Linked DNA regions of Homo sapiens: region 1 is linked to region 2. The links come from fine-mapping of genetic effects on plasma protein levels. Region 2 holds a variant in brackets. A gene starts in the other region. All regions are shown on one strand. Distances are between the middles of the regions.

Evidence for each region. PIP is the posterior inclusion probability: the model's chance that the variant is causal. The UK Biobank Pharma Proteomics Project read protein levels with antibody pairs (Olink). The fine-mapping took linkage between variants from a reference panel, not from the people measured, so its PIPs are less certain.
Region 1: it holds the start of ITGAM, and the variant in region 2 is fine-mapped to the plasma level of the ITGAM protein (UK Biobank, PIP above 0.99).

What each region holds. Positions count from the first base shown.
Region 1 is chr16:31,258,507-31,261,420 of GRCh38, reverse strand. It overlaps ITGAM (integrin subunit alpha M), which reads right to left and starts at 1,446. Exons shown (of 30, transcript NM_000632.4): 1 at 1,329-1,446. The coding sequence starts at 1,356. RefSeq lists an enhancer at 1,590-1,689.
Region 2 is chr16:47,149,391-47,152,304 of GRCh38, reverse strand. The region is part of intron 1 of ITFG1-AS1 (ITFG1 antisense RNA 1); the gene reads right to left. It also overlaps the pseudogene RPL23AP72. Among named protein-coding and RNA genes, the nearest start is that of ITFG1-AS1, 6.8 kb to the right of the region's middle. The variant C/T (reference allele first, on the strand shown) is at 1,648.

The DNA.
Region 1 (2,914 bases), 16 Mb after region 2:
CACCTGGGCTCAGGAGTTTAAGACCAGCCTAGGCAACACAGTGAGACCCCATCTCTACAAAAAATAAAAAATTAGCCGGGTGTAGTGGTACTCAGGAGGCTGAGGTGGGAGGATTGCTTGAACCCAGGAGGTCAAGGCTGCAGTGAACCATGATCATGCCACTGCACTACAGCCTGGGCAACAGAGAAAGACCCTGTATCAAAAAAAAAAAAAAAAAAAAAAGATAGCAGCATGTCTTCCTGCTCCATTCCCTTTCCCATCCATTCGGTCACCCTAACTAACCCAGCATCCAGATGTCTGCCTCCCAGGTCCAGCTCTGTTAGCCTGGGGCGGGGATTAGCACACTTATTCTGTAAACAGCCAGATAGTAAATTTTAGGTTTTGCAGACCAAGAGGCTGATAGAATATGTTGTACAAGTACTTATATAACAAGACAGAAAATACTTTTCCACAAATTTGTCATTAGGGAAATTTCAAACATAATGATTGAGTACAATTTGTTTGTAATACGGGTTTACAAATGAGACAAATAGAATTCTTTGGGGGTGGTGCTCCCTATCATCAAATCGATTATCAGTGTTCATCTTCAATCTCTAGCTGGCAGGTTGTGCAAAAACAGGTCGTGGGCCATATCGGGCCCCCAGGCCACTGTTTGCTGACTCCTGACCTAAGAACCACCGTCGTGGGGCACGTCCAGTCCTGCTCTGAATTCCAGCCTCCCTTCTGAGCACCTAAATGGCTTCTTCCCCCGGTGTCACAACGATGATTTGCCCAACAGTGAAGTTTCTATACATTCTTAATTAGATAATTTCCTTCCTATGCAGCTCTCAAGTATTTCCTTCCCTTTTGAGGAGAATTTCATTTTCCACAACATATAAGCATAAAAGGTAACAAACTCAAATCATTTTCATTCATCAGTCATTCAACAAACATTTGCACCCGGGACCTTGGAAAATAGAACCGGAGGCAAAGTGGAGATGGTGAGAGGGGATCCAGGAGGAAGCACTCAGGAAAGGGGTCTCACACCTGCTGCGCACCCTGAGCCATGTCACTTCTCCTCCCTGGGCCTCCGTCTCCTCATGTGTGAAGCAAGGGGACCGGCAAGCAGCCTTGCACAGTCCATGAATGTGGTCATTCATCCAGGCTTCCCTGGCCAGCCTGTCTGGGTCTAGCTGTTCTCCCTGCTTCTTCTTGAACCCTTTCTCCTTCCCCAAATCCCCTTTGCCTCTCCCCAGACTGACTCCTACATATTCTGGGCCCTCTATTTATGACAGACCCAAAAGTTACCCTCCTCCCCACCCAGAGTCCCCCACCCCACCCCCATGCACCTGTTAACAGAAGGACTCTGAGAGCCATGGCTGGAAGGAGCCAGAACCTGGAAGGAGGTGAACCAGGGGTTGCAGGCACCACTGAGGAACCACAAGGAAGCCACCAAAGCAAAGAAGGGCAGAAAAGGAGAAGTAGGAGGCAGAAGTCTATCAGAGATTCAAAGGAAGAGGGCGGAGGCTCAGTGAGCACATAGCCCTGCCTGGTCTTCCGCCCAGGACTGCCCACAGCCTGCCCACCCTTCCTCCCCAGCTTCCTGACCCAAACTTTCAAAGTCAATACCACTATCCAAAAGGTGCCATTTGTCACCCACTTGTTTCTTGGGTTGGCCCAAGCATATGAACAAGCTGAACAGACTTAGCCTGCCTCCTGGAATTCGTGTTCTAAACATTAATACGGGCCAGGCGCAGTGGCTCACGCCTGTAATGCCAGCACTTTGGGAGGCCAAGGCAGGAGGATTGCTTGAGCCTGGGAGTTTGAAACCAGCCTGGGCAACATAGAGAGACCCTGTCTCTACAAAAAAATATTTTTAATTAGCTGGGCATGGTGGTGCGCGCCTGTAGCCCCTGCTACTGGACAGGCTGAGGTGTGAGAATTACTTGAGCCCGAGGTCCAGGCTGCAGTGAGCTAGGATCACACCACTGCACTCCAGCCTGGGCAACATAGGGAGACCCCGACTCTACAAAAAAATACATTTAAAAAATTAGCCAGGCATGGTGGCACATGCCTGTAGTCCTAGCTACTCCAGAGGCTGAGGCAGGAGGATTGTTTGAGCTCAGGAGTCTGAGACTGCAATGAGCCTCAATAATGCCACTGCACTCCAGCCCAGGTGACAGAGTGAGACTCTGTCTCAAAAAAAAAATTAAATAAATAAATAAGCAAACATTAATACAGATCAAACAAGTGTAGGAGGTAAAACTCTGTGTCTTCCTGAAAACACACTTTGCAAAATGTCCCTCCTTCAGCCCATGGAAATGGAAGCGCCCTTCAGCCAGAGCTGTCCTCATTTGTAGCCATCAACAAAGACAACTCAAGTACAGGCATACCTGGTGCTTTTTAAATATTATTTTGTGCTTTTTTTAGAGACAGAGTCTAGCTCTGTTGCCCAGGCTGGAGTGCAGTGGTGTAATCACAGCTCACTGCAGCTTCAATCAACCTCCTGGGCTCAAGCGATCCTCCTACCTCAGCCTTCCGAGTAGCTGGTACTACAGGCACATGCTGCCATGGCCAGCTAATTTTTTTTAAATTTTTTGTAGAGACAAGATCTTGCTATGTTGTTCAGGCTATTCTCAACCTCCTGGACTCAAGTGATCCTCCTTCCTCAGCCTCCCAAACTGCTGAGATTACAGGTGTGAGCCACTGCATCCAGCCTATTTTTGTGTGTGTGTGTGTGTGTGTGTGTAAAGGCCTCAAGCTCTTCACCCAAGAATTTTCACTTCTAGTAATTTATCCTAAGAATAGTTAAGAAGTGTAGTCAAAAATATATGTACAAACTTGGCTGGGTGCGGTGGCTCATGCCTGTAATCCTAGCATTTTGGGAGGCTGAGGCGGGGTGGCTCACTTGAGGTCAGCAATTGAAACCAGCCTG
Region 2 (2,914 bases):
TCATCACTGTTCATCTGCCAGCCTCATCTGGAGAGCAGACTCACCCAAGATCAGGCCCCTCTTCTTAACATAAAAATCCTAAGTGTTCATAAACTAAAAAGTAAAAACCGCCAGACCTGTAAGGAGAAACAGACAAACTCACGATTTAAGTGGGAGACATCAACACTTTTCTACAGTAACTGAAGGAAAAAGTAGGCAGGAAATCAGAAAGCTTAGAGCTGACCTGAAAAGCACTCAGTCAATCTAACCTAGTGGCTATTTATATAACACTCTAACCAACAGCAGCAAAATAGTCTTTTTCAGAGCACATGGAACACTTACCAAGATAGACCATATTCTGGGCCATAAAACAAGTCCTACCAAATCTAAAAGAATAGAAATCATACAAAGTAGATTATCAGACTATAATAGAATTGAACTAGGGAGATCCATGGAAAATACCCAGATATTTTAAATAACCATAGGGTCAAAGAGGAAGTCTCAAAAGGAAATTTTAAAATATTTTGAGCCAAATGAAAAATACAATGTAACAAAATTTGTAGGAGGCAGTGCTGGGGGGTGGTATTTATAACACTAAATGCACATATTAACAAAGAAGAAAGGTGATGAAAGAAACCAAGGAAGACTTCAATGGAAAGACAGTGTGTTCATGGATTAGGAGATGCCAGTACTCCCCAAAGTGATCTGTACATTTCACACCATCCCTATCAAAATCCCAGCAGTATCTTTTTGTGGACATGGACAGGATTTTGTGCAACTTATATGAAAGAGAAAATAAACTAGACTAGTTTAAAACAATGTTGAAAAAGAAGACAAAGTTGAAGAAATCAAACTATGTGACTTTAAAACTTATTATAAAGCTTGAGTAATAAAGATAGTGTGGTATTGGCAAAGAGAGACACATAGACCAATGGAATAAAATTGAGTCCAGGAATAAACTCACACAAATATAGACATTTGATGTTTGACAAAGATGTAAAAGTTACTAAGTGGAAGACAGTCTTTTCAACAAATAGTGTCAGAACAATTGATCATCTGTATTTGCCATAAATACAAAGGGCAAAGGAGAAAAAAAGAACCTTGATCTAAACCTCACACCTTACACAAAAATTAACTCAAAGTGGGTCATAAATTCAAATATAAAATGTAAAACTATAAAACTTTAAAAGAACACATAGAATGTCTTCATAGGCTAGGGGTAAGCAGAGTTCTTAGAAATGACACCAAAGTTATGATTCTTTTTAAAAACTGATAAATGTGACTTCATCTAAATTAAAAATGTTTGCTTTGACAAAGACACTTCCAAGAGAATGGACAAGCTATATATGCAAAGAAAAAAAAATTTTTTTTTTGAGATGGAGTCTTGCTCTGTCACCCAGGCTGGAGTGCAGTGGTGTGATCTCGGCTCACTGCAGCCTCTGCCTCCCAGGTTCAAGCAATTGTCCTGCCTCAGCCTCCCAAGTAGCTGGGACTACAGGTGTGTGACACCATGCCTGGCTAATTTTTGTGTTTTTAGTAAAGATGGGGTTTCACCATGTTGGTCAGGTTGGTCTCGAACTGCTGACCTCAAGTGATCCACCCGCTTCAGCCTCCTAAAGTGCTGGGATTATAGGCATAAGCCACCATGCCCGGCCAAGAAAATATTTT[C/T]AAATCACATATCCAACAACAGACTTGTATCCTGAATCTATAAAGAACTCTCAAAACTCAACAATACAAAAACTCAGACAAGATGACACCTAAGGAAGCTCCTGCCTCTCCCAAAGCTGAAACCAAAGCAAAAGCTTTGAAGGCCAAGAAGGCAGTGCTGGAAAGCATCCACAGCCACACACAAAAAGGAGTATCTGCACTTCACCCACCTTCCAGCACCCCAAAACACTACAGCTCTAGAGACAACCCAGATATCCTCAGAAGAGTGCCCCCAGGAGAAACAAGCTTCATCACTCTGCCCGATTCCCTGAGCATTGAGTGTGCCATGAAGAAGACAGAAGATAACAACACACTTGAGGTCACCGTGGATGGCAAAGCCAACAAGCACCAGAGCAAACAGGATGTGGGGAAGCTCTGCAACACTGATGTAGCCTGATCAATCAGGCCCAATGGAGAGAAGGCGTGTGTTTGACTGGCTCCTGCTTATGATGCTTTGGATGTTGCCAACAAAATTGGAATCATCTAAACTGAGTCCAGCTGGCTAATTCTAAATGGACATCTTTTCACCAGTAAAAATAAAAAACAATTTGAGTGGGCAATAATTTGAGGATACTTCACTGAAGAGGATATATAGGTAGCAAACAAGCATATGAAAAGATGTTCAACCGGATATGCCATTAGGGAAATGAATACTAAAACTATGAAGAGATACCAATACACATCTATCATGAATAAAAAGTGCTTTCATGGATAAAACAAAGAATACTGACAATTCAAAGTGCTAATGTGGATGAGGAAAAACTAGAATTTTCATATATTGCTGGTGGGGATGCAAAATAGGAAAGCCACTCTAGAGAACAGTTTGGCACTTTCTAAAATCAATTGCATTTTTATACGCCAGCATGAACAATTAGAAAATGGGATTTAAAAACAGGTAACATTTATAACAGCATCGAAAAAGTCAAGTACCTGGGAATTAGTATAACACAAGATGTAGCATACATCTCTGTCTGGTAAATTATAAAACTTCTCTGAGAAACGCTAAGGAAATTTTCAATAAATGCACATCTGTAACCATGTTAATGGACAGGAAGACTCAAAATTGTAAAGATGTCAAAGCCCTCCCAATTCCACTCATCCCAACGGGGTGTTGTGTTGCCGAGCTTGCTAAGAGGTTTCTAAAATGTACACGGAAATATAAGAGACCAAGAACAGCCAAGACAATCTTGAAAAAGAATAAGGACCTGCTCTACCAGGTAACAAAATA